Linked DNA regions of Homo sapiens. The protein of the gene in region 3 interacts with the protein of the main gene of each other region in a pairwise test. Each region holds a gene or a part of one and is shown on either strand. Other genes may lie near its edges.

Evidence for each region.
Region 1: the proteins of CD40 (region 3) and CYB561A3 interact in binary tests that used the Homo sapiens proteins (3 or more experiments, as listed by UniProt).
Region 2: the proteins of CD40 (region 3) and MAL interact in binary tests that used the Homo sapiens proteins (3 or more experiments, as listed by UniProt).
Region 4: the proteins of CD40 (region 3) and SLC7A1 interact in binary tests that used the Homo sapiens proteins (3 or more experiments, as listed by UniProt).

What each region holds. Positions count from the first base shown.
Region 1 is NC_000011.10:61,352,846-61,360,420, reverse strand, and holds part of CYB561A3 (lysosomal membrane ascorbate-dependent ferrireductase CYB561A3), read left to right. Parts: exon of another isoform or gene 1-995; intron 996-2,592; 5' UTR 2,593-2,688; intron 2,689-3,049; exon of another isoform or gene 3,050-3,182; coding exon of another isoform or gene 3,183-3,218; exon of another isoform or gene 3,219-3,692; coding exon of another isoform or gene 3,693-3,707; coding exon 3,708-3,891; intron 3,892-6,428; coding exon 6,429-6,637; intron 6,638-6,858; exon of another isoform or gene 6,859-6,989; coding exon of another isoform or gene 6,990-7,047; exon of another isoform or gene 7,048-7,238; coding exon of another isoform or gene 7,239-7,281; coding exon 7,282-7,436; coding exon of another isoform or gene 7,437-7,561; intron 7,562-7,575. UniProt on the Homo sapiens protein: Transmembrane reductase that uses ascorbate as an electron donor in the cytoplasm and transfers electrons across membranes to reduce iron cations Fe(3+) into Fe(2+) in the lumen of the late endosome and lysosome.
Region 2 is NC_000002.12:95,050,678-95,057,145, forward strand, and holds the end of MAL (myelin and lymphocyte protein), read left to right. Parts: intron 1-2,703; coding exon 2,704-2,778; 3' UTR 2,779-3,315; downstream 3,316-6,468. UniProt on the Homo sapiens protein: May be involved in vesicular trafficking from the Golgi apparatus to the cell membrane. Plays a role in the maintenance of the myelin sheath, and in axon-glia and glia-glia interactions.
Region 3 is NC_000020.11:46,118,768-46,126,342, forward strand, and holds part of CD40 (tumor necrosis factor receptor superfamily member 5 isoform 1 precursor), read left to right. Parts: intron 1-3,052; coding exon 3,053-3,131; intron 3,132-3,465; coding exon 3,466-3,591; intron 3,592-3,842; coding exon 3,843-3,989; intron 3,990-4,358; coding exon 4,359-4,452; intron 4,453-7,575.
Region 4 is NC_000013.11:29,525,614-29,533,188, reverse strand, and holds part of SLC7A1 (high affinity cationic amino acid transporter 1), read left to right. Parts: intron 1-206; coding exon 207-365; intron 366-2,476; coding exon 2,477-2,651; intron 2,652-7,575. UniProt on the Homo sapiens protein: High-affinity, low capacity permease involved in the transport of the cationic amino acids (arginine, lysine and ornithine) in non-hepatic tissues.

The DNA.
Region 1 (7,575 bases), on a different chromosome or scaffold from region 3:
GCCTAGAATATTTACTACCTGGACCTTTACAGAAGAGCTTGCTGACTGCTCCCTTAGAATGGGGCTCTGCAAAGTGAGCACACCCTGGGATCACAGCCCAGCCTGCCCTTAGAACAAATGAGAGGATATTTTCAAGCATTTGCATTGCAGTTTTCACGGTTTTTTTGTTTTGTTTTGTTTTTGAGACAGAGTCTAGCTCTGTCGCCCAGGCTAGAGTGCAGTGGTGCGATCTCGGCTCACTTCAGCCTTCTCCTGGGCTCAAGCCATCCTCCCACCTCAGCCTCCTGAGTAGCTGAGACTACAGGTGGATGCCATCACGCCCAGCTAATTTTTTTTTTTTTTTAAGAGATGAGGGCTCACTGTTGCTCAGGCTGGTCTGGAACTCCTGGGTATTTATTTATAGACAGAGTCTATCTCTGTTGCACAGGCTGCAGTGCAGTGGCGTGATCTTGGCTCACTGCAACCTCTGCCTCCTGGGTTCAAGCAATTCTCGTGCCTCAGCTTCCCGAGTACCTTGGACTACAAGCGCATGCCACCGTGCCTGGCTAATTTTTGTATTTTTAGTAGAGACGGGATTTTGCCATGTTGGCCAGGCTGGTCTCGAACCCCTGACTTCAGGTAACCCACCTGCCTGGGCCTCCCAAAGTGCTGGGATTACAGGCATGAATCACTGTGCTGGTCCTTCACTGCATTCTTCCTTTTCTCCTGCTTTGCTCTATTTCAGGAAGTAGGAGGGCTTATCTGTGTATTGTGAGCAGGGCAATATAACTTTGCAGCTCTCTGTCAGGAAAGTGTGCCCAGGGTCTATTCTAAGTCTGTCACAGAGCAGTAAACCAGGACCTTTTCTAGGGTGTGGCTACAGATCCTTTCGGACTGCATTTACTTTTTCCTCTTACAAAGAAAAAAAAAACAGTTGTGGAAGTAGATATTGTCAGATGAGTGAGCCTGCTGATCAAGATCTCTTACATTTCACTGAGGGATGGAGAGTGTTTTAGGTGAATATCTGGTGATCTGAAACGTCCTCTGCCCTTGGAGGAATTGAGGAGGCAGTTCTGAGGCTGGGTAGCAAATCTCTGAGTTAAGTAGTTGAGTCACAAATCTTCTAGGAGGCTGGTGGCATGATTTTCTCCTGCCAGCTTCATGGAAGCTTTTTCCCTGCAGCCCTTGGACCTTCTTTTCTTTTTTTTTTTTTTTTTTGAGACAGAGTCTCACTCTGTCCCCCAGGCTGGAGAGCAGTGGCGCGATCTCGGCTCACTGCAACGTCCACCTCCAGGGTTCAAGCAATTCTCCTGCCTCAGCCTCCCTGGTAGCTGGAATTACAGGCGTGCGCCACCACACCCAGCACATTTTTGCATTTTCAGTAGAGACGTGGTTTCACCATGTTGGCCAGGCTGGTCTCAAACTCCTGACCTCAGGTGATCCATCCGCGTCGGCCTCCCAAAGTGCTGGGATTACAGGCTTGAGCCACCGAGCCTGGCTGGACCTTCCTTTCTCAGAGATTACTGCCAACTTGGGTCACCTTGTGCATCTTTACCTAAGTAGGTGGACCCCTAGCATGGGGAGAGCTGGCATGGCATGGCTGAGGGCCACTGAGAGGCCTGGGCAGGCACAAGGAACATGAGCTGCATGTTAGTAGTTAGGATGAAGTGCATGACAGCAATGACTAAGAATTCTATGTATATATATATATTTTTAGATGGAGTCTCGCTCAGTCGCCAGGCTGGAGTGCAGTGGCGTGATCGCAGCTCACTGCAACCTCCACCTCCCGGGTTCAAGCGATTTTCCTGCCTCAGCCTACCGAGTAGCTAGCTGGGACTAAAGGCGCGCGCCACCATGCCCAGCTAATTTTTTATTTTTAGTAGAGATGGGGGCGGGGGTTCACCATATTGGCCAGGATGGTCTCGATCTCTTGACCTTATGATCTGCCCGCCTCGGCCTCCCAAAGTGCTAGGATTACAGGTGTGAGCCACCTCACCCAGCCTTTTTTTTTTTTTTTTTTTGAGATGAAGTTTCGCTCTCATTGCTCAGGGTGGAGTGCAATGGCACAATCTTGGCTCATTGCAACCTCTGCCTCCCTGGTTCAAGCAATTCTCCTGCCTCAGCCTCCTGAGTAGCTGGGATTGATTACAGGCGCCCACCACCACTCCTGGCTAATTTTGTATTTTTAGTAGAGACCGGGGTTTCACCATGTTGATCAGTCTGGTCTCGAACTCCTGACCTCAGGTGATCCACCTGCCTCAGCCTCCCAAAGTGCAGGATTACAGGCATAAGCCATCGCGCCCAGCGAAGAATTCTAATACTTGACTTCTACAGTGTGCTACATTCATTTTCTCACTTGATCTGACAACCTGTGGTCAAGGAAGCAGCGTGGGCCTTGAAGCTAAACACACAGGATTTGGAACTCCCCACCCACTCTCACTGGGTCCTCATGCTAATTACTTATCTCTCTCAGCCTTAGTTTCCTCACGGAATAATATGCCTCCCAGGGTTAAGAGGAGTAAATGGGATCTTGTGTGTAAGGCTCTGGTGCTCGTAGCTGGTGTTCGTTATTCTTACTGTTCAAGTATTCTTACTGCCACGCCTTTCTTGCAGGTGAGTCCTGCAAATGTTAAGTGATTTGCTCAAGGTGCCCATTTCGCAGGAATTGGAGCCCAGGCCAGTTCTCTGAGCCTATCATTAGGGCTAAAGGTGAGCAGTCAAATGTTTTACCTCCGTGGGGGCTATTGGCTATTAGCTGCTTCCGAGTGAGGGACCTCAATGCAGGAAGCCACACTGTTGCCTTCTTGGTGTGAGTCCGTGGGACAGGGTGACTGCCTTGATGCCTGGGCCCGTGCTGCCTACATATTAGCTGAAAGCAGGGCCAGTCCTGTGGCTTTGCCCACTCACCTAGCGTTTAAGAGCAACTGCTCAGGGCTTTAAGCATTTGCCATGCCTGAAACCAGAGTTGGTTTCTGGGTTTATCAAGGACTTGTGGAAATCTCAAAATAAATCTCTTGCTTTCTGGACCATGAGTTGTTGCTTCCTCTTTTTTTCTCTGGACTTTCCCCAGAGGAAGAGAAAGCAGAAGTCTCAGGGCTGGAGACAGCTGAGGGGCATCAGCTGGTTCAAGGTGTGGAGTGTGGGCAGTGGAGTGAAGGCCTGGTTACCTCTCCAGTGAAGATTAGCCCCATAGAGCTTACTCTATGGGGAAGAACTTTTCTGACTCCTTCCTGTCTAGGGTAATAGTGGGGTGTTTGCTCTTTTCAGACTGTAATTTTTGCCTTCTTATCTTAGAACCCAAGGCCTGGGTGTTTGCGTAATTTAGCCTGGATTTTGATTCCTGTCCCTTTTTTCCTGGGGGGTATGGGGTGGTAATTCTTTACCTTCTGGTCCTGTGAGGGGAGAGGAATCCCAGGACTCTGGGTCTTGGGCCTTGGCATCTGGCCTTCGCCAGGGCCAGCCATAGCCTTGAGTTTGCTGCTCTGTCTGGGCACTGCCAGGTGCTGGGGTGGGGCCTCAGTCATTGTGACTGAAGATCAGGCCCACCCAGGCATTGAGGCCTCGGGCGGGGGGTGGTGCCCAGGCTGATGCAGGGGAACTGAAGCAAAAAGATTCCATCCCACAGGCCAAGAGCTAAATCAGTGTTACCTCCTTTAGCCAGAGAACTGGGTGCATCTGAGCCAGTGGAGATTTGTGACTTCTCCTTCTTCTAGGAGTGCGTGATCAGAATGGTGTCTGGACGGTTCTACTTGTCCTGCCTGCTGCTGGGGTCCCTGGGCTCTATGTGCATCCTCTTCACTATCTACTGGATGCAGTACTGGCGTGGTGGCTTTGCCTGGAATGGCAGCATCTACATGTTCAACTGGCACCCAGTGCTTATGGTTGCTGGCATGGTGGTATTCTATGGAGGTGGTGAGTAAGAGGTCAGGAAGGGAGGCGGGATAGGGCTCAGGCTGGACAAAGCTGCACTTTCCCTCTCCAAGGCTGGCCTTTGTAAATGTTGGGCTTGGGGCTATGGGGGTAGGGTGGGTTGGGCTGTCTCTGGGCCTAGCTGTCATTTGGGGGAGGAAGGGGTTAAGATGGGGGGCATCTCAGAAGGGTGGCTTCACAAATACTCTAGGGCAGGAGTTGGCAAACTTTCTATAGAGGGTCAGATAAATATTTCAGTTTTGCAAGACAGAATCTGTGTTGCAGTTACTCAGCTCTGCCACTGTATTGTGAGAGCAGCCATAGACAACACATACACACAAGTGTGGATCACGTGTTCCAATAAAGCTTTATTTGCAAACATAGGTAGCGAGCTGGATTTGGCCTTTGAGCTGTAGTGTTTTTTTTTTTTTTTTTTTTCTCTAGACGGAGTCTTGCTGTGTCGCCCAGGCTGGAGTGCAGTGGCGTGATATCGGCTCACTGCAAGCTCCACCTCCCAGGTTTGCGCCATTCTCCTGCCTCAGCCTCCCGAGTAGCTGGGACTACAGGCGCCTGCCACCGTGACCGGCTAATTTTTTTTTGTATTTTTAGTAGAGACAGCGTTTCACCGTGTTAGCCAGGATGGTCTTGATCTCCTGACCTTGTGATCTGCCCACCTCAGCCTCCTGAAGTGCTGGGATTACAGGCTTGAGCCATCATGCCCGACCTGAGCTGTAGTTTTTAACCAGCTCTAGAGAACAGGAGATTGAAGCCTCTCATGGTTTAGTCAGGCCACCGAATGAGGGACTTGCTTGCTCTTCCGGGATCCATCTTTTTTTTTTTTTTCTTTTTTTGAGATGGAGTTTTGCTCTTGTTGCCCAGGCTGGAGTGCAATGGCGTGATCTTGGCTCACTGCAACCTCCGCCTCCTGGGTTCAGGCCATTCTCCTGCCTCAGCCTCCCAAGTACCTGAGATTATAGGTGCCCGCCATCATGCCCAGCTAATTTTTATATTTTTTAGTAGAGATGGGGTTTCACCATGTTGGTCAGGCTGGCCTCGAACTCCTGACCTCAGGTGATCCACCCGCCTCTGCCTCCCAAAGTGCTGGGATTACAGGTGTGAGCCACTGCGCCCAACCTGGGATCCATCTTTGTAATCTTTGTCCCATGCTTTCAAATCTGTGCCTTGGGGCCCTGGTGAGCCTCATTTTCCCCATTTGTAAAATGGCAATACGATGCCATTGATGATAGCAGCTTACCATGTGCAGTTCACATATATCATCCCATTTTGTTCTTACAAGTTTGTGAGGTGGGCTCTGTTATATCCCTTTTACAGATGAGGAAATTGAGAGTTAGACAGGAGAGGCCAGGCCAGGCGTGGTGGCTCACGCCTGTAATCCCAGCACTTTGGGAGACTGAGGTGGGCGGATCATGAGGTCAGGGGATCGAGACCATCCTCGCTAACACAGTGAAACCCCGTCTCTACTAAAAATACAAAAAATTAGCCGGGTATGGTGGCAGGCACCTGTAGTCCCAGCTACTTGGGAGGCTGAGGCAGGAGAATGGCGTGAACCCGGGAGGCGGAGCTTGCAGTGAGCTGAGATTGCGCCGCTGCACTCCAGCCTGGATGATAGAACGAGACTCTGTCTCAAAAAAAAAAAAAAAAAAAAAGAAAGGAGAGGCCAAACAGCTAAGAGGCAGAGCCTGGATTTGGACCTATGTTGCCTGACCTTAGTACCTGTGTTGACAGCCAGCCTCACTTGTGACAATTCAGTTTGATGAAACAATGACTGTCATGATGCTTTTTAGCCTAGAAACTGCAAACAAGCTGAATTTATTATTGTGAAAATAGAATGAGAGGTCCAAGAAACCTGCTTCCCCCCTCCACTTTTTTTTTAGGAGACAGGTTTCCCTCTTTTTCAGGCTAGAGTGCAGTGGGATGATCATAGCTTGCTGCAGCCTTGAACTCTTAGGCTCAAGTGATCCTCCCACCTCAGTCCCCCAAGTAGCTGAGAGAACAGGCATGTGCCACCATGCCCGGATAATATTTTTTATTTTTATTTTTTGTGGACACAGGATCTTGCTATGTTGCCCAGGCTGATCTTGAACTTCTGGCCTCCCAAAGTGCTGACATGAGTCACCGTGCCCAGCCCTCCTCCCTTTTTAATTGGAATCTGTTTATTTATTTATTTCTCTCTGTGGCCCAGGCTAGATTGCAGTGGCATGATCATAGCTCACTGTAACCTCAAACTCCTGGCCTCAAGCAGTCCTCCCACCTTGGCCTCCCAAAAAGTGCTGGAATTACAGGCATGAGCCACCTTGCCTGACCACTCCTCCCTTTTTAACTGGCCCTTCTCTCCTCCCTTCATGGCTGTTATCCCACAAATCATGGGAGGGTAGAAGATGCCGAGGAGTTGATACCAGTGCCCTAGCATTTCCTGTTCCCTTGCTGGGAAGCTGTGTAGGATCCTATCAGGGTTATTCCCTGATGTCTGGGTGAGCTCGAGGGGAGAGGCTGAGCCCTGGCACTACTCTCTCCTGCAGCGTCACTGGTGTACCGCCTGCCCCAGTCGTGGGTGGGGCCCAAACTGCCCTGGAAACTCCTCCATGCAGCGCTGCACCTGATGGCCTTCGTCCTCACTGTTGTGGGGCTGGTTGCTGTCTTTACGTTTCACAACCATGGAAGGACTGCCAACCTCTACTCCCTTCACAGCTGGCTGGGCATCACCACTGTCTTCCTCTTCGCCTGCCAGGTGGGTTCTCTCTGTTCTCCTCCTCGAGGTTCCCAGAGCCATGAGCTCTGGTTGGGGGTTCACTTGCATGAGCACCAAATATTCCTCTGCTCACTGCTTGGAGAGGGACTTGCAGATTGTTATCTTGTAGAACTGACAGTTTATTCAAGGGCTGTGGGAGGTCAGTGGCCTGAACTTACCCTGTTCCTTTTATCCCTCCCATTGCCCGTCTCTCGTCCCAGAGCCCTCTCTGCTAACTTTGTCATGGCACGCACTATGCTGACTCTAATCAGCCATCTGGCTTCCACTTTCCCCACTCCCACCTCTGTGAACCAAAAGAATTCTTGAAGTGGTTTCCATATTCTGATCTCAGGCCTGTGCGAGTGAAGAGTTTTATGAGCAAGGACTGGAAGGAACCAGAGACAAACAAGGTGGTTGGGTTTGCTGGGAGTGGGATGGTAGCTAAGCATGTCATTTACTGTTCTTGTTGCTTGGGTAATAGGCCACAATGAGGAAGCTAGCACGGTAGTGGGCAATGCCAGGTGGGAAGGTTTGAGTTGTGAAAGAAGAGCCAGGGAGCAGAGATGGGGAGGAGGCACTGATGGGGTGGGATGTGCTTTGGTCACACATAGCACAGTCGGGTGTGTCCTCCCTTTTGTCCACAGTGGTTCCTGGGCTTTGCTGTCTTCCTCCTGCCCTGGGCGTCCATGTGGCTGCGCAGCCTCCTAAAACCTATCCACGTCTTTTTTGGAGCCGCCATCCTCTCTCTGTCCATCGCATCCGTCATTTCGGGCATTAATGAGAAGCTTTTCTTCAGTTTGTGAGTGCAGTGGGGTCCCCAACTCTAAGGTGAAGAGGAGGGAATAGGGTCTTCAAAAGATACACCCTGTGATCACAGGACTCACCCAAGGGAGGAGAGATTTTGGGGTTGGGTCCACTCCTGATCTGGAAGGTAACAG
Region 2 (6,468 bases), on a different chromosome or scaffold from region 3:
GCACAGTCCCCTGCCCTGGGGAAACCACACACTGCCCTCAAGCTCCCAGCCTACAATCGCTCCCCTAAAAAGGGCCCCCTCAGGATCCTGGCATCCCCCCAGGGGTCCCGCGGTGTGGAAACATCTCCCGTGTTGGCCCATCTCCCAACATGGCTGGTTTCCAAGCAGCAGCACAGCCAGGGGGCATCTTGACTGATCTTCCTTCCTGGGGAGGCTGGTGAGCCACCCTCCATCTTCTTCACACAATTCCATCTCATCTCCCTCTCCCAAGACTGCCTCATACCTCCCCCATCCCAGCCAAGCCTTCTCTTTTAACAAACATCAACAAAGTGTCTGACAATAATTTCCATAAAATTGTTGTGAACAAAGGTTGCGAAATGTAGATGGGATGTGGTTAGTGGGTCAGCACTTGATGGAAAAACCCAGCTAGGGGAATGAACACCCCTTCCCGCTGGGCAGGTCTCTAGTTGAGAACCACTAGGCTCTACTGCCTTCTGACTTTCCTCTTTTACCTTTTATCAAAGGCAGCACACAGCCAGAGAGGTGTGCAGTTACAAGCCCACAGCTTGATGGATTTCATACAGCGAACTCCCTGTGTGGATGGTGTCTGGACTAAGAATTAGGGCCAGTTACCAGCGCACAGTCTGATGAATTCTCATAGAGCAAACTCCCCAGTGTAGTTGGCATCTGGACTAAGAATTAGGGCCTGATAAACAACTCCCAGAAATCCCCTCAAGTCCTGTCCCCATCACTGTGCACCCCCACCACCACCCAATTCTGATTTCTAGCACCATGTTCAGTTTTGCCTGCCTTTGAACTTCATATAAGTGGAATTATACAGTGGGTACTCATGTGTGGCTTCTTTCTCTCACCCTTGTGTTTGTGAGACTCACCCAAGTGGCTGGGTGTAGATGTGGGTTGTTTGTTCTCATTACTGTATAGTATTCCCTTGTAGGAATAGACCAACATCTATTTATCCATCCCATGACTGACCATGTTCCCATTTTTTTTTAGTTGAGTTGGATAGACACGAATATGTTCACGCAGACAGGAGCGTTAGAATTGAGAACCAGAGTGTTCTCAGCTGGCAGATGTGCCCAGATAAAACCACCAAGGGGAAATCTGCACGGCGTTCGATGTAAAGTCACACCTTTCAACTCACGGTATCAACTGCATCCGTCTGTGAGAGAGAAAGAAGTTCGTTACTCAGGATTCAATCCCAGACCCGCCCAACCACAGCATGCCCAGTCCAGGGGATACTTGGGTACAGGGAGGCACCTCACACCCTCTCTCACACAGCCTGGTTTTGGAAGCAGCCAGCCTGCCTCACATCCACTGTGTGGCTACTAATTAGGGTCTGTTCCAAGCTGAGCTCCTCCCTCTCTCCTTTGTGGGTGGCGGAGCTGCTTTGCCAAAGGGACCCCAGGGATGGGTGGAAGTCGCCTGGGGCGAGATGGAAATTTCTGGAGAAATCTGGAGGTTTCTAGATTATACAATGGTGGGCAGTGATGGCTACAGTTTAGGGAGAGGGCTTTCTGAAGCCAAAATTTGCCCATTCGTGCCCAGCTCTACGTGTTCCCAGTGGGCCATTTCTTGACCCCACTTGGAAAATGAGTCTCCACTGCTCTTCCTGCTGGGGACTTCCAAGGTGCTTCTGCCAAAGGCTTTCATTGGTCTGGAATGCCCACCTTTTATGGAGGGCTGCCCACTGGTGTCTGACTGCTCCTGCCCAGATACGTTCTCTTAAATGTGTTATTCAATAATTCAGCTTACTCACCGCCTCCAGGCAATGAGGGAAAGGGCTTGGCCAGGTGTAGGGGCAGGAGAGCAGGCACCCTGAGGGCTGGGATTGATGAGCATTTTCAGGAGTCACAGAGGCGTAGCCGCCCTAAATGGACGTCGTGCCTGAGCTGGAAACTCTTGACCCCTAACCAAGGTCACAAAACCAGGTGCAGAGATTGGACTTGGCAGCAGGCAGGCCTTCAGGGAGTAGGGTGATGGGAGCAGACAGTGCCCAGGAGGACACAGCAAGTCCCCAGAAAGCAGGGCCATCGCTCCAAGGGCCACAGTGGCTGACTGGATGGTCCCAACAGTAAGGCCCCTCCTTTAGACAAAAGCTCAAAATCCCTTCTCCCCTTCTCTGTCCCTCACTTCCTATGAAGTCTGGCTCTCTCAGCCACACCTGTGATATTAAGAATCCTAAAACAAAATAATGATAGGGTGAGAATGTCCAGGCAGCATGGAGACTTTCACCAGGGCCAGCAAACCCAGGTATTTACAATCTCTCAACCGAGCTACCAGGACCACAGCTGGAGGGCGCTGGTCTCACTGGTGTTGGGGGAGGAAGTTGTCCCTGGAGAGTTACCTGCCTGAGATGCTTTCATTGGAGGGGTCTTTGAGGACTCCATCTCAAGTCAGCCGAAACCTCAAGCTGAGACGAATGTGATGCTGGGTGATAGTGGAGAGTCTTACCTTCCACACCAGATCCAGGAGACTGTTAGGTCACATGGAGCTCTGTACTGAGAGGATTTGGTGCACACCTGGGCTCAGCAGGGAGGGCGTCCATGTGAGGGTGAGAAGCAATGACAGCCCAAGCTCTCTGGGTCTGGCCCCCCCTACGCCACGTGGGGCTGGATGCAGTGCAGACGCTGTGCCTCGCCCTCCCTACACAAACCCATTAACGGCCATTTCTCTTGGTTCCAGGTGTTCTCCTACATAGCCACTCTGCTCTACGTGGTCCATGCGGTGTTCTCTTTAATCAGATGGAAGTCTTCATAAAGCCGCAGTAGAACTTGAGCTGAAAACCCAGATGGTGTTAACTGGCCGCCCCACTTTCCGGCATAACTTTTTAGAAAACAGAAATGCCCTTGATGGTGGAAAAAAGAAAACAACCACCCCCCCACTGCCCAAAAAAAAAAGCCCTGCCCTGTTGCTCGTGGGTGCTGTGTTTACTCTCCCGTGTGCCTTCGCGTCCGGGTTGGGAGCTTGCTGTGTCTAACCTCCAACTGCTGTGCTGTCTGCTAGGGTCACCTCCTGTTTGTGAAAGGGGACCTTCTTGTTCGGGGGTGGGAAGTGGCGACCGTGACCTGAGAAGGAAAGAAAGATCCTCTGCTGACCCCTGGAGCAGCTCTCGAGAACTACCTGTTGGTATTGTCCACAAGCTCTCCCGAGCGCCCCATCTTGTGCCATGTTTTAAGTCTTCATGGATGTTCTGCATGTCATGGGGACTAAAACTCACCCAACAGATCTTTCCAGAGGTCCATGGTGGAAGACGATAACCCTGTGAAATACTTTATAAAATGTCTTAATGTTCAATACATTTGTTGGGTGTTTTTTGGGTTTGGGTTGAATTCCTCAGCATCAAGAATACCATCAATTCAGCTTTCTTTCTGAGGAATCCTTTGACTTAACCTGAATCTCAAGAGACAGCATCAGGTGGCAGTTCAGACGACGGACACTGTGTGTGCCAGGCCACTGCACTCTCAGAGCCCGGTGCTGGGGAGCCCACCCTCCCAGCTACCTGCCCAGATGGCTTCCCCTCTCTCTGGAAACTGGCCAAGTGCCAGCCAGGGGCAGCTTCTCCTTCCTACAAGACACAACAGTCTGTGCCCCACTAGAACCTCCTTCCACCAAAAGAAAACACGGTGCACAAGTTTTCATTCACTCATTGTGAAGCTCATCAGCGTGTTCCTGGGCAGTCTGCTTTGTTCCCATTGTGTGGATAATACATTATTTTAGAATTTCCTCGGGCCACTCCATAGGAGAGAAAGGAGAGGAAATTACAGAGTGAAAGGAAGTACGGTGACAAGGGGTGAATGCCATGTTTCAAGTCTGAGATGTCTGGGTTGAAAGGAGATGGGATGATTAGGAAGGAGGCACTGAGTTAGGAATCTGGAAAGCCCAGCTCTGTTATGAAACGCTCCCTTATCCCATGGCTCCGAGAAGTTAGTGCCATTCCAGAGATGGGACGCTGGAAGAGGTGCTTGAAGACCCGTGAGCTTCCTGCCATGGAGGTGTGTGGTAGAGCATCTGCAACCTCTTGCTGGCAGCCATGGGGACAAAGATTCAAGCTTCAGGCTGTAACGGTGTCATGTACCTGTGGTCCCAGCTACTCAGGAGGTTGAGGTGGGAGCATCACTTGAGCCCAGGAGTTTGAGGTTGCAGTGAGCTGTGATGGTGTTACTGCACTCCAGCCTGGGCAGCAGAGCAAGACCCTGTCTCTAAAATAAAATGATAAAATAAAATAAAAATAAAATTCAAGCCTCAAGTGGTGAGTTTAGTTGACATTTTACTGCTCTTCAACTTGGAGAGTCTACAACTAAATTGGTCTATTCAGGAGGTCCTTTGTTAATCCAGGATAACTGGTACCAGAAACCAGCCACTCTTAGTAAGTACACGTCAAACAGCCAACATTTCATAGTATATCATGAGCAAAAGGTTTGACTGGGGCTTTACCTAATGAGAAGTAATAGGAAGTTTGTTACATGTTTAACAAAATTTCCATCCAGTGTTGATTGAGAGAAGTCTCATTTTTCAACAAAACTGTCCACAGGAAGCCATCAACATGTTAATGAAGCTCACTTTTTACCCTCATCAAAAAGAAGAAGAAGAAGGAGGGGGAGAAGGAGGAGGAGAAATGGAAGGCTTAGTTTCCCAAGGGCTTCTCAATGTTTTGACATTTTAATCATTCTCTTTTTAAAAAAATCTTTCATATACTCTTTCTCTATTTTTAATTTAGCCAAAGGCTTTGCAGATGGTTCTCTGACGCCACTTTCTTATTCCTTCTAGCCCTGGGCATATTTTAAATTTGCAGTTTCATTTCACATTTGACTTGCATCCTATTCACATTGGATGTAAATTGGATGGGCAAGGTTTCATTTCCAGCCTCAAAAAATGCCCCCTTCCGGTCTTGCTCTTCCTCCTCACCCCCCACCCTCACACCCCAGCCCCTGTCGGGTTTCTTTGCTCCTGCATCTCTGTTCCCAGCTCTGTCCCTATCTGGCTGTTTTGTGCTTGCAGGTACACATGAGTGCTGGCGGCAGCCCTGCCAGCCATGGGTGCTGCTCCCCTGGGAGCCCACGATGCCTGGGTAGGAAGGGTTGGGAATGGGGACATTAGAGAAGCCTGCTGGGTGAAGCAGGCTGCAGAGAGGGGCACCGGCTGAGCACCTTCTGTGTGCTGGGACCATTGAGGGGATGGTTTCTAGCCCCCAAAGCTGCTTCTTGCTGGCACCCCTCACCTCTCTGCCTCTGTCTTACACAGGAGGGGACCTCCTCTAAGGCAGAGCCTGGTGCCACCCAAGGCACTCACAGACTGCCTGCTTGTGGCCCTCACTTAGATCAAACGCAACTGCCCAGAAGACCCAAATTCACTCTTGTGTAACCATCTTCCCTGCCATTTTGGGGGCTCTTGCCTTGTGCCAGGCACTGTGTAAGCACTTTCCATATATAGCTTTCTGTCACTCTCCCAGTGGCCACGTCATCCTACAGGTGAGAAAACTGAGGCTGGTGCAGGTGGTGAGAAGTGCAGTTGGACTGAGGGCCGCCTCCCTCTGGCCCTGAAGCCCTGGGCTTGATATGACCTCAAGGCACCCAGACCTGTCCTCACGCGGGCCGTCCTCCCGTCTCCCAGGAAGTGGCAGTGAGATTTAGTGGTTGACAGGATGCTGGTAGGCAGGAGCCTTCAGAGAGTGATGAAGCCAGGCACTTAGGATAGCCCCAGTCCACCAGCAGGGCCTATAGCAGCCCACGGCCACGGCCAGGCCCTGCACTCAGCGTCTCCTGGAGAAGAGCTGGCTGCTCAGAGCTGCAGCCACAGCCACGCCAGCTCAGGTAGCTGCTGGGTCCACTTTGCAGCCCCCATAGAGCCAAAGCCAAAGTCCAGCTGATACTTTGCAAAGGTGAGGAACTGGGTATTTTTAAGCTCACAGAATAAGGAGCTAAATCTATCCACAAGCCTGAGAAAGGATTAGGAAGAGGCCATTGTGTATGCTGTGACTCAGAGCCAAAGCTTGCAGAATAGGCCAGACCATAGTCAGTCACCCCACTTTTGTCCCCACCAAGTTGTGGGCCCAGCAGAGAAGAGAACAGAGGGGTTTGGACCAACTGGGCCTCGTGGGTCACTGCTAAGGGCTTCCCCCTCCCCTGATTGTCCCTGTGGCTTGTGTGCTGTCCATGGACCCAGGAACGTGCAGTGCCCGGTCAGGCGCCAGGAGGGACACGGGGCCAGTGCTCAATAAACACGGCCGCATAAGTGAGCAGGCCCAGCGCCCCAGGGCCGCTCCAGCTGACCTGTGCTCATGCATGTCTGTCCTCTGGCCTCTCAGGAAATGACAGTGAGATGAGACCTTGTGGTGGACAGATGCCAGGTGAAAGGGAGTTTCTGATGGGGGTGCAGCCAGGGTTTGGTACAGTGTCTGGGAGCGCTCTGGTGTAGATTTCACTGGACAGTGATTTGGTCACTGCATTC
Region 3 (7,575 bases):
CTTATTGTGGACAGATGCCAGCCTCTGTAAGTAGTTATCATCTCCTTGCCAGCTGGGGCTGCCTTCTTCCAGGGCATCTTGTGGGAACAAGAGATGGGTGCAGAGGCCCAGGTACTTTTGTGAGAAGGCAAGGAGCTTTTAACATCGCCTTCCACCCCGAACCGTATCTTGGGTGTTCCAACCTAGGAGGAATCCCCAGGGCTTTGCCTTTTTCTCCTGAATTTAAGATGACATAGGAGACCCCTGGGGAGATGAACAGTTTATGGGACACAATAAAGGGTTAGGAGACCAGAGTTCTGGTTGGCTCTGACAGGGCTGGTGATCAGAGGGCTGGAGAAACCAGGGGTTTCTCCAGGCACCAGAGGGGCTCAGAGCCAACCAAGCATATCTCCGGGATTTTCAGAAGCCTACACTTGACTCACTTTTTGTTTAAATGTATTTTTGTAGTTCCTCATTCTGGAGGCTGGGAATCCCCCAAGTACCTGGCTCCTTCATCCCAGCCCCTCTGGCCTCCCCCTACTTTAGAGGGCTGTAGATTCCTGCCTGAAGCCTGGGCAGGAATGACCCATGGTATCAAGGAAAGCAAGGGAAGCAGCAAGGGAAGAGAGGGAGTGGGGAGGCTGCTTTGGTCCCACAGCTTTCACTTTCACCTGAAGCAATGGCTCTTAGGGAACAGGGAGGCAGGGGGAGGGCGGAGCTGGAAAGAGGTAAAGGGGGGCCCTTGTGGTAGGAGTGGAGAAAGAGCCAGAGGAGGTGGGGTGAAGGGTGTGATCCAGGCTTCTCAAGAGCAGAGTTTGCCCTCATAACTCCCAACTTTGGCTCCAGGTAGAGGCTGGGCTGTGACAACAATGTCAGAAGCTATCTATTGAGGGCTTCTTGTGTGTCAGGCTCTGAGCCAAACACTGCCTGTTTTCTTTGTCTGATTTCTCACAACTCCCCCATTATACAGATGGGCAAATTGAGGCTCAGAAAGGGGGATTGTCTTGCCAAAGGTCTCATAGCTAGCTAATGGAAGAACCTGGTTGTGAATCTACATCTGCATGATTCCCGAGCCTGCCTCTCAGATAGTGAGAGTCTCCAAGCTCTGGTCCTGAGCTGTTTTGTGGCAGAAGGACCAGAACTATGGGGAGTGAGAACTGGAGATTGACAGACTTTTAGGGGAGCGTTTTATTTCTCATGTGTTTGAAGATGGTATCAAGGACTTTCCTATCTTTGGGAGTGTGGGAGCTCCACGTTCACAGGATGGTGTCTTGCAATGAGCTGGTGGGGGGCAGTAGCCTTTTCTACTTCCTTTCCCATTTTGGGTAAGACACATTTCTGTAAGTAATTTGCTGAGATACCCAGGTTGAATGAGAGCCACCAGTTAGGTAGGATTCTGGACAGCCAGCCAGGTAGCCGGGCTGCTTGCCATATATCATGCAAGCAGAAACAAATGAATGATGATTAAAATTGCCATTTAATGAGCACCTACTATGTTCCTGACACTGTGCTAGGCCATATACATGTATTCTTTCTTATCTTCGTAATCCAACCTGCAGGGCAGGCATTATTACTCCCATTTTAGAGATAGAGAAACTGAGGCTAAGAGAAGCAAAATAACTAGTAAGTGTTACAAAGTCAGGACTGGAGTCTAAAGCTGTCTGACTCTCAAACTTGTGTTCTTTTCACTGGCTGTTCCCAAACTGTGGGACAGTTTTAAGGAGCACATGGACATAGAATTAAACATACACTTACTTTACAGTTCTTTTAAAAATCCTTCTCATTTTTTCAAAGAGGAAGTCTCTGGAGCTAGAATAGAGTTAATGCCTCTCAAAGGCTTGCTAATCCTTCTTTTAAAACAAAAATCAAGAGCAGGCCTGGGAGGGCCTTCAACAAGCAAACAACCAGCTGGGTTTTAATAACCTTGTTTTGTTTCCCCAGAATTTATTTTTAGGGTTACCTTTTATTTATGAGAAGTGATACTGGTTCTTGTCTCTTGGCAATGATGTGAGGTTTACATTTAAAGTAAATGTACCGGCCAGGCACGGTGGCTTGTGCCTGTAATCCCAGCACTTTGGGAGGCCAAGGCAGTCAGATCACTTGAGGTCAGGAGTTTTAGATCAGCCTGGCCAACATGGTGAAACCCTGTCTCTACTAAAAATACATAAATTAGCCGGGCATAGTGGTACACACCTGTAATCCCAGCTACTCAGGAGGCTGAGGCTGGAGAATTGCTTGAACCCAGGAGATAGAGGTTGCAGTGGGCTGAGATGATGCCACTGCACTCCAGCCTGGGCGATGGAGCGAGACTCTGTCTCAAAAAATAAAATAAAAGTATTGAAATTAACAATAAGTAATTAATAGCATGGGTGGTACCTGGATGTAGTAAAATGGTGAAGATGAAACACAAGTTGATGGAGAGAGGAGCATTGAGACCTGAGTTCTCATTTGGACTCTGTCACTGTGAGACTCTGGGCAAGTGACCCTCCTCTTTGGTGCTCAGTCTCAACTATCTGTAAAATGAAAGTGTGAGTTTACCCTTCCAGCTTTACATTCTAGCATTTTATGAGGGAAGGGCTGGATGAACAGATGATGAGGAGTTGGAGGAAGAAAACATGATGGGCTTTGGAAAGGAGCAGGAAGGGAAGCAGAAGAATAGGAGGAAGAGGCCAAGTGCTAAACATAGCCCCAAACAGCACTGGGACCAGCTGAAGTCAGCCAGCTTCAGGACTCCAGGGGAGCTGCTGGAGTCCCCATATCCTATGGGATCTTTGGGAAGAGGAATGACTCAGGCATCAAGCCCCAAGGAATTCTGTTCTGTTCAGAGAATATTGTGAGTTTACAGTACCATTGCTTTGTAAAAATACCAGAATGATTCTCTGGGTGCGATTATAATCAGCTCAGTTGACAATTTACTTGAAAACAAACATGCCAAATATCATGCAGGTTCCACTTTCTGTTTTGACTTGCACTTCAGTTTGCAGCCTCTGTCCTGGATGACTTTTACCTTTCTGCTGAAGAAGTTGCAACGGAGATTTCAAGATCCCTTCAAATTGCACAATTCTGTTTTTAGGTCCATCCAGAACCACCCACTGCATGCAGAGAAAAACAGTACCTAATAAACAGTCAGTGCTGTTCTTTGTGCCAGCCAGGTGAGATGCCAACCCTCTAGCCCCATCATGGAGTCCCCCTTTGCTTTGGTGGCAGACGCAGACCCCATATGTTAACTGTAAACTCAAATCTGAAACGACCCATTTCCCAGCCCTGCTTCACTGTCAGAATGTTCTGGTTCCCTCTCTACCAGGTAAAACTCTGTCTACCCTGAACTAGGGATCCCAGCTTCTCCATCTTCCTCGCCTGATTATGAAGGATCCAAGACTTTCATCTTTGAATCCCCTACCCTAAAGCCTGGCCTGATCATTGTGTGGTTAGTGTCTGACTCATGGAGTTGGCCAGAGCCCTCCCTCATTTCCTGATGTTTTCCAGGACAGAAACTGGTGAGTGACTGCACAGAGTTCACTGAAACGGAATGCCTTCCTTGCGGTGAAAGCGAATTCCTAGACACCTGGAACAGAGAGACACACTGCCACCAGCACAAATACTGCGACCCCAGTGCGTGCGCTGTTGGGAAAGGGACGCTTGGGAACCGGGCTGATATTCCCGACAATGCAGCCATTCTAATTTTATGTAGCCAGGGTCTGCTCTGATTGGTTGGAGTCCGGGCTGTACTGATCATTAAATGATTTGATTGCCATCTCTACTTGGAAGAGGGTCTGAGGAAGAAAGAGCAGGCAATGTGGGGAGTGAGGCTCAGAGCATGGCCCAGCAGGGGGTTCCCATCCTTCCTGCCCTTCTCTTCTCAGACCTAGGGCTTCGGGTCCAGCAGAAGGGCACCTCAGAAACAGACACCATCTGCACCTGTGAAGAAGGCTGGCACTGTACGAGTGAGGCCTGTGAGAGCTGTGTCCTGCACCGCTCATGCTCGCCCGGCTTTGGGGTCAAGCAGATTGGTAAGTGGCTCATCTGGGAATCAGTTTTGGAGGGGGACAGAGGAGCTTAGGGCCCAAGGTGAGGGGCTGGGCAGTGGGCACTTAGCCCCAGAGGCAGAGGAAGCAGAGGCTCCAACCTATGTCGGTATCCCCACTGGAGTGAGCTGCAGACGGGACCTTGTTCATTCTGCCTTCTGCCATGGGGATCTGCCTTTGAAGGGCAATGGGAGAAGTCCTCCTGGGGACTGCAGCTGTCGGGGGCAGTACCACATCGGGGGAAGAGTGCTCAAGGCAGGAGCTCTTCCCGTCCTGCCTGGCCACTGGCTGCCTTGTGAGCCGGACAGGTGGTCCACTGTGATGGTTAATGTCCCCCTCCCCACCCACTCCCAGCTACAGGGGTTTCTGATACCATCTGCGAGCCCTGCCCAGTCGGCTTCTTCTCCAATGTGTCATCTGCTTTCGAAAAATGTCACCCTTGGACAAGGTATAAGCACTCATCCCTTGTGTTTCCTGCTCTAAGAGTGGCATGGAGCTGCCTCCATTCTCTCCAGCCACCTGTCCTGTCCCTGCTCCCAGAGGTCCACACACACTCATGTACTTGTGAAGCATCTGCAGAGTGGCCTCATGGCCAACCAGACAGGCACATTTCCACATTTTTTTTGCCTGCTGTCTCTTTGAGGTAATAGACACTGTTGATCTCTCGCTTCATGAGAGCCTCCTATCTTGGGGGTATTGGGACACTTATTTTAGCTTTCCTTCTGCCCCTCCTGCTTCTCCTCAGTTTTCCTCGTCTTGCTTTCACCTTACCTGGCTTTCTAGGGCTTTCTGGGCTCTGGGTGCTCACCCTGAGGGCCTCCCTCTCTTACCTCCAACTCCAAACCCACACCAGGTCCTGCCACTGGCTGTCTACGTGTTTTGGGAACTTACTGTCTCCACTGTTGTCACTTTAGTTTGGGCCTCATCACTGTGGTCTGGGTGATGCCTTTTCTGCCTCCTGGCCTCCCTGCCTCTGTCTCTCCCCTCCTGCTGGTTCTGTCTCCATCCTCTTGCCAACATGAGCGTTCGACAGTTTCTTTCAAATCATGACACTCTCCTATTTGAGATGCTTCCTGTCTCTCTGTTGGAACTAAGACTCCTTAGCATGGCACCCAACCTTCCTGTTGCATTTCCTGCTCTCTTTCCTGCATCGCATAGCTTCATGCTACTTGCAATCCTCTGAACACACTGTTCATTCTCTTCCATCAAACTCATCTGCCTGGAATACCTTAAACATGGGCCCCAGGCCAGGCGCGGTGGCTCTTGCCTGTAATCTCAGCACTTTGGATGCCAAGGCGGGTGGATCACTTGAGGTCAGGAGTTCAAGACCAGCCAGCACAACATGGTAAAAACCCATCTCTACTAAAAATACCAAAAAATTAGCTGGGTGTGGTGGTGGGCGCCTGTAATCCCAGCTCCTCGGGAGGCTGAGGCAGGAGAATCACTTGAACCCGGAAGGTGGAGTTTGCAGTGAGCCAAGATAGCGCCACTGCACTCCAGCCTGGGCAACAGAGCGACATTCTGTCTCAAAAAACAAACACCTGCCCCATTAACTTTTTGCATTTGATTTTTAAAAATGGGCAAGATAGGCACATGGGACAGAAGGCACAAAAGAGCCAAAGTGATGTCTTTCTCCCATCCCTGCCCCTTAGGCTCCCAGTTCTTTCTGGAGGGAGCCATTGTTCCTTGCATATCCTTCCAGAGATTCTACATATAAACAAACCAACACACACACACACACACACAAACACACACAAAATTTCCCTCCTTTTACTTTTGCACAAATAGGAGTATACATTTTATTTGTTAACTGTCTGCCTTTCCCTAATAGATTGAAAATTCCTTAAATGTAGAAACTTGGCCTTTTTTTTTTCTTCCATTGATACATCCCCTATACCTGGAACAGTACCTGACGCATGGTAGGTGCTTAAATTTTTACTGATAAATGTTGACTGATAACTGGAGGCACCACTGGTATAGTTTTTTTTTTTTTTTTTTTTTTTTTTTTTTTTTGAGACAGAGTCTCACTCTGTCGCCCAGGCTGGAGTGCAGTGGCGCAATCTCGGCTCACTGCAAGCTCTGCCTCCCAGGTTCACGCCATTCTCCTGCCTCAGCCTCCTGAGTAGCTGGGACTATAGGCGCCCGCCACCACACCCGGCTAATTTTTTTGTATTTTTAGTAGAGACGGCGTTTCACCGTGTTAGCCAGGATGGTCTTGATCTCCTGACCTCGTGATCCGTCTGCCTTGGCCTCCCAAAGTGCTGGGATTACAGGCGTGAGCCACCGTGCCCGGCCACCAGTGGTATAGTATTAATGGAATCAGTGCATTGGCTTACGTATCTGATTACAGCTCAGTAAGTGTGTGACCCTCACTGAGCCTCAGTCTCCTCATCTGAAAAATGGGAATGACCTTCATTTCACAAGGCTTGAGCTAAAAACATGTAAAGTGTATTGTAAATTCCTGAATGCTCTACTCATGTAAGACTAAAGTAGGCCGGGCGTGGTGGCTCACACCTGTAATTGCAGCACTTTGGGAGGCCGAGGAGGGCAGATCATGAGGTCAAGAGATCGAGACCATCCTGGCTAATATGGTAAAACCCTGTCTCTACTAAAAATACAAAAATTAGCTGGGCGTGGTGGCGCACATCTGTAGTCCCAGCTACTCAGGAGGCGGAGGCAGGAGAATTGCTTGAACCTGGGAGGTGGAGGTTGCAGTGAGCTGAGATCGCGCCACTGCATTCCAGCCAGTCTGGCGAAAGAGCAAGACTCTGTCTCAAAAAAAAAAAAAAAAAAAAAAAAAGACTAAAGTACATGGTTTCTTCAAAGCTTCTCTCTCTTTCTCCCACCTTAGATGATTTTTCCTTTGCAATGTCCTGTGTCCATTCCGCCCCACTCCTCCTGGGGCCACCTGGACCAGGTCTTCATCATCTCATATCTATATGTTTGCTGTGTCTCCTGGCTGGCCACTCTTCTGTAATTTCTCCTCCTCTGAGCTCTCTGGGCAGCTGAATCTTCTCACTAGTGAAGTCGCCTGGTTGGATGCTGATGAGACTGACCAGCTGAATCCAGTTGAAAACTTCACACTTGGCAGTGATCTGGTTCTAAAGACACAATTTTCCATAGTTTCCTAACACCATCCTGCATGCCACCTGCCTTATTTCCCCACATCACATCGTCCCACTTAGCGGGACTGCACTGCTGATCCAAATTTTACATCCTTTAGGGCCCACTCAGGTCATATGTCCTCAGGGAAGTCTTTCTGGAAGAACCTTAAACCAGAGGTTCTCAACAGGGGGCAGTTTTGCTCCCTGTGGAACGTTTGCCAATGTCTGGACACATTTCATTCGTCACAAACGGAGAGGGGGATGCTACAGGGATCTGGCGGATAGAGGCCAGGGATGCTGCTGAACATCTGCAATGCATAGGACAGCCCACCCCCACCCCCACACCCCCAGTAAATAATGATCCAGCCCAAGTGTCACTGGTGCTGACGTTGAGTAACCCTATCTTAAGCTGAACTCATCATCTCTCCATTCCAGCCTTGGTGGATTCTGTCTCCTCTGAACCATTC
Region 4 (7,575 bases), on a different chromosome or scaffold from region 3:
CTCTGTAGGCCCTAGAAGCCTTCTCGCACTTAGCACTAGTCGACCGTCACTTCTGGCTCAGCATACACTGTGGTCTGGCTGCTGCTGCCAGATTCCAGTGCACCGTCGGTGACTCCTGCAATGATGTTATCAACATGGAGCTCCACTACAAATACCTGGCTAACAGTTGTCCTCACATCTCCTCTGTTGTGTGTGCTTTGTGGCAGGTACTTCAAGCGTAGCGAGGGCCTGGAGCGCCACCTTCGACGAGCTGATAGGCAGACCCATCGGGGAGTTCTCACGGACACACATGACTCTGAACGCCCCCGGCGTGCTGGCTGAAAACCCCGACATATTCGCAGTGATCATAATTCTCATCTTGACAGGTAAAGCCCACACTTAAAAAGAGATCGGGTCAGAGTGATGGGCAAAGGTTTGGTGAGAGGCTCCTGTTAAGTTCCTTTCTTTACTTATCTCTTTAACCATAACCCCCATTTCTTTTTGTTTTGTTTTTGTACTGCATGCAGGCATCTTTATTTGTTCCTGTCTTCATTGCTTCTTATAGATTCAGATAGGGCCGGCCTGCTTCATAGCTGTTGAATTGTGTGCCATTTCATTAAAAGAGAATCTTAGGTGTTTAGCCTAGCTGTTTGTGGAATAAGATTTTGTCTGCACTGCAGGCTTTTTGTGTGAGTGTCCTGGGAATAAAAGTTCTTTTGACTCAGTGGATGACCATTTGGAAAGCAAAACTGTCATTCATCAGCCAGGAAAATGTGGAGGAATGAGCTCCGTCTGGAACACTAATGTGTGCCTGGGGCGTCTGAAGATGACTTGGATGGTTTTTACACCTAACAACCATCAAAACACCCTTTCAGTAAATAAGTTTCATGACAGAGTTGTGGTTACAGAATTTGAAAAATCCCAGAGACTGCCTGAACACAGCTGATGGCAACTTCTTGCTAGTGACATTTGTGCGTGTCTTGGCCAGTGCAGCGCGAGTTTTGCTCTGTGGGGCTCCATAAACATGAAGCTGAAATGCAGATAAATTCTCATTTGGGGTTAGAAAATCTTGGATGAGTTTTAAAAATGACATGCCTTATTTTACACACCACATAATTGAAATAACTTCACTCAGGCTGGTCTCAGCAGTATTTCTGGTCCAGCTGGCAGAAACATGCATCAGAAAGTAAGTCTGCACTAGTGAGATTTCATTTTAATAAACCTGAGAGGGAGGGACACTAAAGAAACAATATATTGTTGTTTGTTGAGGTGTTCTCCCTGTGATTAATTACACAATTCTCTTCTAACATCTGTACTTTATAATTCAATCTCAAAAGTACAGCAGTTTTTATTTTATTTTATTTTATTTTATATTTGAGACAGAGTCTTGTTCTGTCACCCAGGCTGGAGTGCAGTTGCGCGATCTTGGCTCACTGCAACCTCTGCCTCCTGGGTTCAAGCGATTCTCACACCTCAGCCTCCCCAGTAGCTGCGATTACAGACACGCACCACCACACCCAGTTAATCTTTTATATTTTTAGTAGAGGTAAGGTTTTGCCATATTGGCCAGGCTGGTCTGGAACTCCTGACCTCAAAAGATCTGCCTGCTTCCCAAAGTATTGGGATTACAGGCGTGAGCGACCGCACCTAGCCAATTTTTATTTTAAAACGATGAGAGGCGTCCATGGCAGAGCAGTGGTCTCAAATCCTGGCTGTGTTCGAGTGGTACCAACCCCTTCTGTGCCACTTTTCTTGCCCAGCAGAGAGTTCAGCTATGGAAGTACCCGAATGACCTCTTCACCCTAAGGTGGTGCTGGGGCATGTGCCTCAAAGGCAGTGCTGTCAGAGGTTCCTGGGCATCTTTATTACTTATAGTTTTCTTTAAAAAAAAAACGTGAGTTTGCAAGCTAGAGCTAGCCTAGCTCAGATGTTATTTTATATGCACTGAGTCCAACGAAGAACCATGTGTGTTAGTGGTTCCAGAACCATAGCTAGTTGTTATTGTTAATATCACTAACATCCCAAAGTCAACCAGAATAATTTCCTCTTCTGAAAAATGTCCATTCTCCCAGGAAACTATGCAAAGTCTTTCTTCCTGGAATTGTTCCTAGAGGTTGTTTCCCAGCAACGCATCCTTTTAGTGAGAGGGAGCGGCTTGGTGTGCGGGTCCAGGCTTTCCCCTCCCTATGAGAGGGGCTCATGCTCCAGATCTCTGCAGTTCTCGGGTGCCCCTTGGGTGGGCTTCTCAGTTCCCAAGGGTATCTGGAGGTCACCTAGGAGGGCCTGGGAAGCACCCACAACCTTGGTGATTTAAACCCCTGATCCCCGCCCCCAGAAAGATAATTAATCCACCCCATTCCCAGAGGCTCACAGAGGTCTGCAGAGGCTCGATGCACTTGGATTCTTTTTCAGTCGCCTTCTTATCCCCATCCAGGAAGGACCTTCCCAGTTTGTGGTTAACACTCAGACAAAGTTTTGTGTCTATGCACTTTTTCAGGACTTTTAACTCTTGGTGTGAAAGAGTCGGCCATGGTCAACAAAATATTCACTTGTATTAACGTCCTGGTCCTGGGCTTCATAATGGTGTCAGGATTTGTGAAAGGATCGGTTAAAAACTGGCAGCTCACGGAGGAGGATTTTGGGAACACATCAGGCCGTCTCTGTTTGAACAAGTGAGTTGCTGCTTCTGACCATTTTTCTTAGTTGACATTTAATGACATAGATTGTATGGGGGATATAACTGGCTAGGATGGCATGTGCTTTTAAGAAAACATTATTTGAGGATATTTTGTTAATTGTTTTGTGTTTTTGCAGTGAAGTAGCTGAGGGTATTTTGTATGTATCAAGTTTGTGTGAAGGTTTATTCCCCTGAAATGGAAAGACTATTGTATGACAAGAAAGACTGAGGAAAAGAAAATCATCACCCTAATTCCAAATTGTGTATCATTCAGGATTCTTGTCAGACTCATTAAATGATCCCTCTTTCCCCAGATTCTGTTTGATGGCCAACTTTGGAATTTTGTGTTCAGAAAAGATTTTTCTCTGCAGTGCCGTGGTGACCTCACTTCACCTTTAAATACCTTCCTATTAGATTAATAATGTAGAGGGAAGAGAAATAGGTGAAACTATTTTTGAAGGTTTTCAGAATGACTGAAGTGTCAGAATGTGAGCACAATAGTCTTTCGCCGACATTTGACTTGTGCTGCTCAAGCCCTGGCGACAGTGGCCCCATCACCCTCATGTCTCTGACACAGACATCCGGAACTGGAGGTGACAGCTCCACCCTGTGCCATCTCAGGTCTCTCGCCCAGCCCTCATTGAAAGCTCAGATAACCTAGGAAAAAAAAGCCAAACAGTCATATCTTTTTTATCTTTGTTGTCAGATCTCCATGTAATTCTTTAGGTCTCAGGATGGACAATGGGGACTTGGATTTTGTGTGTGATTCTTCATTAAGACTGAAGGTTGAAACTGCTATGATAAAGAGACCCCCTCCAACTGCCACAATGGAGTGTGGCTTTAAAGAAGAGATGTTTCCAGTCCTGAAGTGAGCAGTCCGCGTTGGCTGGCCAGCTTTGCCACAGGCCTCTGTGGACCTAGACATCTTCTGTCTTGCTCCATCTTCCCCCAGGACATTGTCCTCATCTGCCTGGTCAGAGCTGGCTGTAGGCACGAGCATGACCCAGCTCTTCCAGAAGGGAAAAGAGAGCGTAGAGGAGAGTGCTCAGGTCTGTTCAGGACAGACCAGAAGACACACAGACATTCCATTGGCAAGAGTCCACTGGGGGCCACATAGAGCTGCAAGGGAGGCTGAGAAGCACTATCTCACATTGGGAATCTTAGCAGTCACGTATGCCCAGTTGGTCACTGGTTCAGGGCCAGGTGCCAGCCATGTCGCCCAGTATTGTTACCAGTGGGCAGGCATTGATGTGTGACTACTTGAATGGAAACAGGAAACTATGGCATTCGGTGCACGAAACTTCACTAACACTAATATTTTGTGGTTAGCAGTTCTAATAAAACTGCTTTCCTAAACTCTGTTATGGAGAACTGAGGCCTTTGAATATGTCATCCCGAGCATTTCAGAGTCATATTTATGCCAAATTTATGGGTGTCCATTAATCTAGGGTGGAGTGAAGCCAATTCCAAATATGTGTTGAAGTAACGTGTAGCCTTTGAAAACTCAGAGCATATTCGACCGGTTGCTAGTTATAGGTCAGGAATGAAATATATAGGGCACCTCTTGTTAACTGGTTGCCAATCGAGATTTAATTTTATTATTTTTATGAAGAGATTGTGCCAGCCAATGGTATTTACTTTCACTGGTCATCCTCATGCTGGTACCCTAGTAATGATGAGCTAGCTGTACCGGCCCCCAGACAAAGCAGCATTTGTTGCCCCAATCCCTGATCATAGGTGGGGCCCCCTTAGCTACATCTGACGGCCTCACTGCCAGGGCCCAGCCCCCTGACCACAGGGACGGCAGGGGATCGGCCATGTTAGGAGGTGGAGTTCTGCAGGACTGGAGCCTCCTTGGCATGCTCTATTATGTTGTTAAAATATCTAAGCAACTTTCTTTCTTTTTTTTTTCCAGCCGTAGCTTTGTGTTTCTGACAACAGCCATGTAGTCTTGCATGACATTGCTGGTTCCTCTGAAATAGTAGGGCACTGCCCAACCAATCCATATAACATGCAGGAGCTTCCGCTTGCATGGGAGGCCGTGAGACCACATGGGTTTGTGATTTTAGGATGCTGTCTCCTAGCCGCCTGGGAAGGCCCCCAGGAACTAGGTCGGTCTGTCTGTTGGTCTGTGAAGAGGAGTGTTAGTTACCCTGCAGTCTGGATGGCTCTTCGTGCCTTTGACTCAGGCTGCCGCTGGCATTCCCATCCAGTGTTCTGTGGACATAGCAATAGTGAAGCATCAACCCTGCATGGAAGCCTGTTGAGAAGGTTTTGTTGGATGGTGTCTGCCAGTTAGGATGGAAGCCCCAAAATAACATTGGCTTCAACAAGATAAGGCTTTGGTTTTCTTTGGTTAACCTCTGGGGTTGGTCAGTCCAGCTTGTCGCTTCACCCAGCCAGGAATCCAGGCCAGGCGCCCCAGGGCTGAAGGCGGCTTCTCCAGCTCCAGTCAGCGGGATGGAGAAGGGAACAGCAGAGGGTCCCCTCCCTCCCCACTTCGTCTCCTGGACATTTCTCAGCAGATGCAGACACCACTTCTGCTCAAACATCCTCCATCAGAACTTAGCCAGATGGCTACTCCTTGCAGCTAGTGACTCTGGGAAACACACAGTCCTGATTCTTAAGGCTCATATGTCCAGCTGAAATAATTAAAGTTTCCATTACCACGTAGAAGAACAGGGGAGTGTGGCTTTTGAGCACAACTAACAGTTGATGTCAGGGTGGCTGGTGTGAGGGTGGCGGAGCCCTGCTGCAGGAAGTTCACCACTGATGCAGTGGGAGACCCTCGGGCCTGACCCCTTTCTATGCCAGGCATTGTCTTTGCTGCTTCTGAGCGACCAGCTGAGTGGAACACAGAAGGGCTGGTCAAAGGCTGCAGGGCAGGGAGCGCTGAGCTGAGACCAGGACTCAAGCTCACTTTGTCTCGGGGCGACATTTGCTGGGTGAGGGCTCTTGGCAGCCCCTCTCTTTCACATGTGAGTTGCCAGATGATGAGTGAACACAACTGCCACACGCATGTAAAAGGTTAATTATTGATTACATAGAAAGAGACCCTTAGTAAATATCTCTACGTTTTGGTTTGCGCCTCTGTAGAATGGATTCTGTGGTTATTTTGTGTTGATACTCTGCCACTGGCATCAGTAACACCCAATCTTTTCTTAAAGGTGGAATTTAACTTTTTGAGTTGGTAAAATACTACGTGGTTCATAACGCTTTAAAAAAGATTTACAATGCGTTCCTTTCTTCATCCACCTCATCTCCCACCCCCACAGGTAAACTTTCTAATTGTGTGTGTGTGTGTAAGCTTCCAGTTTCTCCCTGTGTAAGCACAAGCAAATGTAAATATGTATATTTTATTTCTGTTTTCTTACACAAAACGCGGCACTCCGTATATATTGTTCTGCACCTTGCATTCTTGCTTACTAGCATGCCCTGCAGATTTTTTTTTTTTTTTTTTAATCAGGCCCTTGTTCATTGTTATGGTTGCCCAGGGTCCCGGCACCCGGGTCCTCCTGAAGTCGGCTGTGGGTCCTCCTGAGGTCAGGTGTAGCGGCGCAGTACGAGGAGCAGGTGTGGCAGGGTCACAGTCAGCAGGGAGGTTTACGGATGCTCACGGTTGCACACAGCTCTGGAGTTGGCGCAGCACAGCACGTGCCTTCACCCCCATTCTGTAACCTGGAGGATTATCCAGTCTCTTCTGCAACTGTCCTGAGGAGCCGGGGAGGATGCCTTTTGTTTTGCCTCCTCGCTTTGCGCTCACCCATCGCCCTTGCTTCCTTCTCTCCATGCTTTTATTGTTGTGTGTGCTTTACCTGTCTGCGTGAGGAAGACACATTCCAGCCCTTCTTAGTCCCCTTCTGTGAGTTCATCTCTTTCTGGGATTTAATCATGTATGCAGTTCCCTGCACTTTCCACTTGCCCTGAAATGGAGGTTTCAGGACCTTTCTAGGTGCCTCTGCCTCATGGTTGCCTAAAGCTCATCTATCCATGATAGCATTCATTTATTTATTTATTTTTTAATTTTTAAAAATTATTTTAGAGACAGGATTTTGCTGTGTTGCACAGGCTGGGGTGCAGTTGCGCAGGCTGGGGTGCAGTGGCACAATCATGGCTCAAAGCAGCCTCAAACTCCTGGGCTCGAGCAATCCTCTTGCCTCAGTTTCCCAAGTAGCTGGGACTATAGTCATATGCCACCACACCCAGCTAATCAGAAAAAAATTTTTTTTTTGTACTAATGGGGTCTCACTATGTTGCCCAAGCTGGTCCCTAACTTATGGCCTCAGGTGATTCTCCCGCCTCGGCCTCCCATAGTGGGCATGCATTTATTTTAACGCAAGGCCATGTTGGTAGCTCTTGATGTCATAGGAGCTGAGTGGGGATCTGGGGGCTTTTCACTGCCCGTCTGTCACCCTGGCCGCCACAGGGCACCAAAGTGGGGCCCACAGAAGCCATTTTGACTCTTGAGTTCCCCTCCTCCCTTGGCCTCATCCTCCCCCTCTTGAGCCATTTGGTTGTCACCTGCTTTGTCTTCAGCATAGGCCACTGAGTAACAGAAGCCGTTTGCCAGGGTGGGAGTGGGTGGCCGGCGGGGCCTCTGGCCTGAGAGGCGAGGGGATTTGGATGAGTTGGGCACAGCTCCACTCCAGCCCTTTGCTGTCCTGCGGCCCTGCTGACTTGTCTGTCCTGGGATGCTTGGTTTTGAACTTGGGTTGCTAGTTTTAGTCATACTCTAACACAACAAACTAAAATTTTGTTTGGCCACAGTTTTTCCTGCGTCCATCACTTGTACATTTCTGGGGGTTTCCTCTCGTTACTGTTTATGGGACCACAGTAAACCCCACATCTACATGAGCTTTCTCATGCATGTACTTCCAGCGTCTTCATGGCAGTTTCTGTAACTGAGAGCTGTGATGATC